Homo sapiens: one gene and its partner. The protein of the gene in region 1 purifies or fractionates together with the protein of each later gene. This does not show direct contact. Each region holds a gene or a part of one and is shown on either strand. Other genes may lie near its edges.

What was found.
Region 2: the proteins of TUBE1 (region 1) and TEDC2 purify together in Homo sapiens (affinity purification with mass spectrometry; 2 studies listed by BioGRID and IntAct, with this or other methods). This does not show direct contact.

The regions. Positions count from the first base shown.
Region 1 is NC_000006.12:112,077,480-112,081,291, reverse strand, and holds part of TUBE1 (tubulin epsilon chain), read left to right. Parts: intron 1-84; coding exon 85-200; intron 201-1,537; coding exon 1,538-1,659; intron 1,660-3,812.
Region 2 is NC_000016.10:2,458,892-2,463,140, forward strand, and holds the start of TEDC2 (tubulin epsilon and delta complex protein 2), read left to right. Parts: upstream 1-1,217; 5' UTR 1,218-1,253; coding exon 1,254-1,279; intron 1,280-1,391; coding exon 1,392-1,490; intron 1,491-1,731; coding exon 1,732-1,802; intron 1,803-1,924; coding exon 1,925-2,333; intron 2,334-2,855; coding exon 2,856-2,909; intron 2,910-3,257; coding exon 3,258-3,348; intron 3,349-3,523; coding exon 3,524-3,635; intron 3,636-3,739; coding exon 3,740-3,841; intron 3,842-4,249. UniProt on the Homo sapiens protein: Acts as a positive regulator of ciliary hedgehog signaling. Required for centriole stability.

The DNA of each region.
Region 1 (3,812 bases):
ATTCAGCGCATAAATTCTTTTCATTTACAGAGTGAATAACTCTAAAAGAAAATACATTAATTATATTTTATTTTTCTTTCTCAGGCAGTCTTGATTGATATGGAAGAAGGGGTAGTGAATGAAATTCTGCAGGGACCACTGAGAGATGTATTTGATACGAAACAGCTCATCACTGATATTTCTGGCTCAGGAAATAATTGGTGAGAATACACAGCGTAAAAATTGAATATCTTCTGAAAAAAATGAGCAATCTTTCTTCATTGTGAGATTCTGCTGATACGAAACAGGATGTAATTTGCCACATAATGCTAGGCCTTTCAGCCCACCACCTTAATAAATAGTGGCTTGGAAGCCACCTGTATTTACTCCTAGTTCTTTCTAACTTTTTTAAAGAAAAAGAAGAATTATGAAAAATTAATTTGCTAAATTCCGTTTCATAAATTCTTGAAGAACATTAAATAATGACAAATGTTTTAAGTACTTTCATTAACTGTTATCTATGTTATTTGACTCACTCTCAAGTTGTCCAATTGGTCAGATGTAATACAATTGGTAGAGATGCAAGCCAGACCAGTATCCTAGCATTCAAGCTGAGCCTAAGGCTGTTTAGGCCCTTGAGTATATAATGGTCTCTTCTCTTTACTGTGAAAAAAGCTTCAACAGTGATTACTTAAGAATTCACATTGAGACTGTTGCTGTTTTTTAGAAATTAGCTCCTTGTTATTTGCAAATCTCTCATATTCATTATTTTCACTATTTGCAGCCAGTCCCTCAGGTTCATAATGCGGAATAATATGTAATTTTACTAAGGCATAAATTTGAATCTTGTGTTCCCAGAGAACCAGTCACTTAGTAAGTGAGCCCATCTGACCACCTAACTGCATTTTTACTAATTGTTGTATAACTTATTATGTAACTTTTGAGTTATACCTGAAATGCATATTATGGGAAAATCTTTTGTTTTAATTCATCATAGTGATATTTGCAAATTTGGACAACTTAAAAAGACTTGCAGAGCTGCATGATTATCAATTTCTACCATGTACCATTTCATCTAATAACATGATGTGACCTTTTTTTTCTCATATATGAAACCAGAATAGGTTTGTTTAAATTTTTGATTTTCAGTGTCTCTGTAGTTTACCACATTTTGCTTTTTAGTATGTAAAATCCACTACAATTCAGAGTTTGCCTTAAATGGAGAGAAGAAAAAATTATGTAACTGCAATCTTGTTTTGTTGGAATTGTACCTTAAGAGAAGGTTAAGATGAATTTAGAAAATCATAGTTTAATATTCACTACTAATGAGCTTACTTATCCAGATATTTGAGGATTATAGATACTGAATATTTGTTAAGTTTTCTATCTAGTATCTTCAGGATATTGTATGATTTATTTACATGAAACAAGAATAGACTTTACTTAGCTCAATAAGAATACTTTTCAAATTTGTTTAAAATCCTTTTATTTAGATTAGAACTAATCAAATAAAAAAATAAATGCAAGGAATTTTTAAAATCCATATTCTAATTTTCAGGGCCGTGGGTCACAAAGTTTTCGGCAGTCTTTACCAAGACCAGATTTTAGAGAAATTCAGAAAGTCGGCAGAGCACTGTGATTGCTTGCAGTGTTTCTTTATAATACATTCCATGGGAGGAGGTAAAATTTTTCACTCATTTGCCTGTAACAGTGTTAAAGGATAAGTGGGAATTCATTTTGCAAACGTAAGTCTTGTTTTTAGACCTGTGCTTGATAAAGATAGAACTATTCGGAGGGTGTGTAGTTTGAGTATATAAACATACACCTTTTTATCTTAAAATTTTGTGGAATTATGTCACTATTTTCTTTTCTTTTCTTTTTTTTTTTTTTTAATGTAAGCCCTCTTAAGAGTCAACAGAACTATACTGGAAAATTTTTTTTCTTGTACCTTTAGTTTCTTTTACAGAACATTCAGATACTTTTCAGGATGTATGAGCTTTTGAGAAATGCTGACTTTCTCCTTAGAGTTTGCCTGTACAGTCCTATTTCCTAGAGTGAAGCATTTTTGACGTGCTCATGATGTGTGCTTGCCAAAGGATATTAATACCCTTTCTTTAACCATCTTCAAACCTTTCTTGTCTCCAAAAAGAGAAAAAAAAGGAAACTAGTTTAGTCAATTCCTTTAGATCATTTATTACATGGCAATTAATCAACTTGAAGTAAAAATAAATGATTGGCATTGCTTTCTTCCCCCAGGGAAGTCTATACCTTAGAACTGAAGTATTTTGCTCCCCTGTTCTGTAAAAATAGAAACAGAATGTAACTTGCTGATTTTTAAATACGCTTAGCAAATTTTAAAAGAACAAAATGGTCACACTTTTTTCCTCCAACCTGAGATTAAGATTTTATATTCAGCAAGTTAGGTGTATGTACAGTTGATTTTTATACATATTATTCATTGACATAGCATTTTAAGATTAAAAGTTAAAATTGCTGTGTAACCATGTCTTTAAAAGATCCTCATAATCATCGGTTAAGAAACAAATTTGTTTCTGTGCTAGTATAATTAACCTGCAAATTTGAGCTAGCTTTTTATTTGATTTATAGTTCGTTATACCTTTTTAAAAAATACCTTTACTACCCAACATCTCAGAAGAACATACTTACAATTCACTTAAAATAGCAAAAATAAATATTAATACTAAAGGTTAAAAGTAAAGTTCTTTTTTCCCCACATCTAATGCCTACTCCCTGTCCTTACAGATGATCAGGTTTGCAGGGTCTTTTTATGTCTGTTCTTTCAGATATATTCTATGCCTATCAAAGCATGTATGTATATTTTTACATAAACAAGATTATCCAATATATACTATACTGTAACTTTTCCACTTTATCTCTTTCTCAGACATCTTTCCATATCAGCTCTCTGTCATAGAATCAATTATACAGTTTAAAGTGAGTTTGTTATTTATGGGTATTAAGTGTTTATGGTGTTTAGTTTTTACATCCAATCATCAGTGAAAGTCTGGGACAAATACTTCTGTATTTGTGCCACTATAGCTTTAGACAGTATTCCTAAGAAAAAGATAGGACCAAAGCATATGTACATTTTAAATTTTGGCTGATATTACCTATATACCTTCCTACAATATTGCACCAGTGCTTCTTACTGGCAACAATGTGTATGAGTTTCTATTTCCCTACACTAGCACCAATACTGAGTATCATGAGACATAAATCTATTATATTCAAAATTGTATTTAGTTTTAATTTGTATTTCCTTAATTAGAAGAAAGGTTGAGCATCTTTACTTCTATTTGCAATTTGTATTTCTTTTATTATGAGTTAAATGTTTCTATCCTTTGCCCATTTCGTGGTGGCATTATTCGTATTTTTTGTTGTTGATTTGTGGGAACTCTTTCTTAGAGAAACTTAGTCCTTCCCATCATATGTATTGAAGGGTTTTTTTGTAAGTTTGTCTTGTTATTTTTTATGGGTTTTTTTAAGTATATATAGAAGTTTTGTTTATTTTTAATGAAATCAAAACTGTCTCTTCTGTAATGGCTCTGGTTTTTTTGTGACGCTTAGAAAGTCCTTCTCATTAAAGATCACCCCAAGAATCTCCCTCACTTTGACTTAGTATTTTTAGCATCATAGCCTTTTAATAGTTATCTGCATGGATTAGAACATTGGTGTTTAAAGTTTTTTTTAACCAGAATAGTATGAAATACATTTTATATATCACAATGCAGCATACACACATGAAAAAATATATTAAGAAAATGTTATTTACTCATACTACATCTGACATGTTATTTTCTACTGTTTCATTT
Region 2 (4,249 bases), on another chromosome or scaffold:
GTCCAGGGGCTCTTAATCCCAACTCTGCATGGAGTCAGTTCTCTGCTTTCTCCCAGCTTGCACCTGAAGGAGGAAACCACTCCAGGGGGACCTGGCCCCGCCTGCCTGTGGTGGGTGGGTTCCTGCATCACCCACCTGCTGACTGAGCATTTCCCTGCCTCCTCCTTCACAGAGAATCTCCAGGGAGGCAGGGCCACCGTCACCCTCCCCCACCGCTGATGGAGGGGCCCACCCGGAGCGCTGGGCCAGAGCTGCCTGGGTCCCAACCTCCCTGACAACTCCCTTTGTGCCCTCCTTCCCCTCTGCGATGGCACCTTCCCATTAACGACTATGGAATGGACTCACCTGTCCCATCTTTAAACAGCAACCCCAGGCTCTGTTTTTCTTTCAGCTACCGCCTGGGATTTCTTGCCCCCTAATTGTTTATTCTTGTTAACACCAACTACATGGGGCCCTGCTGCCTTCCTCACTTCCTCCCTCAGGTGTCCCCCGCATCACCGAAGGCCCTGTACCCCCGCCCCCCTGCTGTGCTGTGTACACCGCCGAGGCCTCAGCAGCACTTGGCCTGTGACCCACTCCCTCCCGTGACAGCCTCCTGTTGCCTCTGTGACACTGTCCTACTGCTCCTCCACCTCCCTGGCCATTGCGTGGGCCCCGTGATCTGTCCCTACCCGTCCCCTGCCCCACCAGGGGCCACCTCGCCTGGCCCACTGCTCCAAGGTCTGAGCTTCCTCCCCTCTGCCCAGTGCTATCACGTCACATGTCCAAAAGTGAACACTTTCTCCTCCTTCATCCCCGCCCCTGACACGCGGAATCCTCACCTCCAGCAACCCCGTCCTGTCCCTGTGCTCGGTGGCCCAGGCGTCAGCAAGACGGCTGGTCCCTGCGTTAAGAGCACTTTCAATAAGGACAGATGGAGCCTCTCGTATAACCTTCACCGGCCCCCTGCAAGAGAAGCGCGATAATGGCGCCCCCATCTACCCAGTTACCCAAACCAAAATCCCGGCGTCGCCCGCAGTCACCTCCCTGGCGGCCTCGGGGGCCCAGCTCCGAGCCGGAGTCCCCGTCAGACCTGGGAGGCAGGAGTGGGCGGGGCTTGAGGCTTGCCCGCAAGGAGGGAGAGAAAGCTTCGGGGGCGGCCCCTGAGCCCCGGTTCAGGATTGGGCAGCCCGGCCGGGAAGGGGCGGCCTTCCCTCCCGGAAGGGGCGTGGCTCTTCAGAGGCGGCAAATTGCAAGGAGACGCCGCCGCCTTCATGCTGCCGGCGGGCTGCTCGCGCCGGTGAGGCCTGCGCGGCAGGAGGGGGTGGGAGGATGCGGGCGGGCCGGTAGCCAGGCGCGGGGCCCGAGGCCCGACGCTGGCCGAGGTGCTGAGCCGCCGGTGCGTCCCCCAGGCTGGTGGCCGAGCTGCAGGGCGCCCTGGACGCCTGCGCACAGCGACAATTGCAATTGGAGCAGAGCCTGCGCGTTTGCCGTCGGCTGCTGCATGCCTGGTACGCGGACCCCGGACCCACTGGCCAGACCTCCCTCGGGCCCTCAGAGTCCCGCCCCGAGCGCCCAGGGCTGGGAGACCGGGCGCAGCCGCCCACTTCGGAGCTGTGGGTTGTCAGTGCCACCCTCCTTACCCTGCAGGCTCTGAGCTGGGGGCCTGCCGCGGGGCCCGGCGGCCCCCTCGGGTCTGTTTGGGCTGGGCCCTGCCTCCTGGCCGTGCGACGGCTGCCCGTGTCTTTGCAGGGAACCAACTGGGACCCGGGCTTTGAAGCCACCTCCAGGGCCAGAAACTAATGGAGAGGACCCCCTTCCAGGTAAACCTCCACCACCCGCCTTCTCCAGGTGCTGCTCTGGCCTGTCTGCTGGCGTGCAGTTGTGAGGAACCCTCCTGGGGGACAGTGGGGAGAGATCCCTGCATAATTCTTGGCTTTCACAGCATGCACACCCAGTCCACAAGACCTCAAAGAGTTGGAGTTTCTGACCCAGGCACTGGAGAAGGCTGTACGAGTTCGAAGAGGCATCACTAAGGCCGGAGAGAGAGACAAGGCCCCCAGCCTGAAATCTAGGTCCATTGTCACCTCTTCTGGCACGACAGCCTCCGCCCCACCGCATTCCCCAGGCCAAGCTGGTGGCCATGCTTCAGACACGAGACCCACCAAGGGCCTCCGCCAGACCACGGTGCCTGCCAAGGGCCACCCTGAGCGCCGGCTGCTGTCAGTGGGGGATGGGACCCGTGTTGGGATGGGAGCCCGAACCCCCAGGCCTGGGGCGGGCCTCAGGGACCAGCAAATGGCCCCATCCGCTGCTCCTCAGGCCCCAGAAGCCTTCACACTCAAGGAGAAGGGGTAGGTTTCCCGGACCCTCACTGGAGGGACTTCTGTCTCTGCCTCCTCAGACCCTGGCTAGCAAGGAGCCTGGGATTTGGGGTGACAGGGAAGGCAGGGCATCGAGCCCTGTGGCATACCCCTGAGGCTCATGCTCAGAAGCTGGCAGAATGAAGCAGCTGTGTGGTGGTGTCCAGGTTGGCACCATCAGGTCAGGGAAGTACTGGAGCCTGTCCTCCTCTCTTCTCTGTGGCTGTCCCCTTATTTGCCCAGGCCAGAGGCTCCAGATGGGCTCTGGAGGGCGTGGGATCTGCTCACAGGGCCCCGCTCACAGGGCCCCCTCTTCTCTCTAATGGGGCAGCACTGGACGATGCTTCTCCTATGGCCACTCTGGAAGCCCTATCCAAGGGGGCTCATCCTTGGTGGGGTCGGGTGTGGGAGAGGGGCAAGAAGCCTCATCCCTGATTGGGCTCTGAGCAGGAAGTGGGACTTGTAGACCCCAGAGCAAGGCGATGCTCCTCTGAACACGGGCTTCTCCGACAGGCACCTGCTGCGGCTGCCTGCGGCATTCAGGAAAGCAGCTTCCCAGAACTCGAGGTGAGGCTGAGGTCTTTGGCTGGACGGGGGTAGGGGAGAACCGGGAGGCATCACCAGCTCGGGGACAGGTTCGAGATACTTTCCAGTGGGTCTCTTTGTCCTCTTTGCTGAGTGGGATCACTGTCGATGTTAAAAATCTGCCAGCCGGTCAGCTTTGTCCCCTTGTCCTAGTCAGTGTCCTCTTGGTTCCCTGCGGCCTCTGGAGGCCCCTCCTGGCATTCAGCAGAGCCAGACGCCCAGCCTGGGGTCCCCACCCTGGCCCTTGCCTACCTCCCAAGGCCCAGCTTACTGGCTGGAATAACCGTGTCCCTCTGTGGTTCCTCTGTGCACCCCACGTGTGCACCCCAGCCTGTGGGCCCAGCTCAGTTCCACACAGACCAGTGATTCCACGGATGCCGCCGCTGCCAAAACCCAGTTCCTCCAGAACATGCAGACAGCTGTATCCTTGCTGGGCTTGTGGGAGCCCTGGGGGCCTCTAGCTCTGAACCTGGCAGGTTTGCAGAGCAGCCCCAGGAGGGGCTGGCGTGGGATGGCCAGGGCCACTCCCCAGGCCCCGTTCTTGGTGGGAGCAGAGGGGCTTTGGCTGCAGGGAAGTTTTCCTGACCCATATCCAGTCAGGCGGGCCCCAGCCCAGGCTCAGTGCTGTGGAGGTGGAGGCGGAGGCGGGGCGCCTGCGGAAGGCCTGCTCGCTGCTGAGACTGCGCATGAGGGAGGAGCTCTCGGCAGGTCAGTGGGTCCTGGGTCTGTATCAGGAGGAGTGTGGAGGGCCAGTGCAGGGAGGGTTTCCAGACTGCCACGGGCCCCACCTGCTCTCCCTGACTCTTCTGCAGCCCCCATGGACTGGATGCAGGAGTACCGCTGCCTGCTCACGCTGGAGGGGCTGCAGGCCATGGTGGGCCAGTGTCTGCACAGGCTGCAGGAGCTGCGTGCAGGTGAGACCCCGCCCCCACCCTGCCACCTGCACTGAGGTCTGGGCCGGGGACAGGGTGCTTTAGCCAGGCTTGTCTGCGCCTCAGGGAAGGGTGAGCAGCCCAGGGACCAGATGCAAGTTGGTGGGCCCCTCCACCCCTCCCACGCCACTCCCCAGTGTGCTGGGTCCTCACCAGTCGTCCTATGGGAGCAGTCAGCCTTCCTCTCCTCCTCAGGGCAGCTCTCCCACCTCGCTGCTCCCCGCACACAGAACCTCATTGCTCTGAGCAGTTGCTTATTCACCCAGTTGTTGAAAAACTAGCATGTGAGGGCCGGGCGCGGTGGCTCACGCCTGTAATCCCAGCGCTTTGGGAGGCCAAGGCGGGTGGATCATGAGGTCAGGAGATCAAGACCATCCTGGCTAACACGGT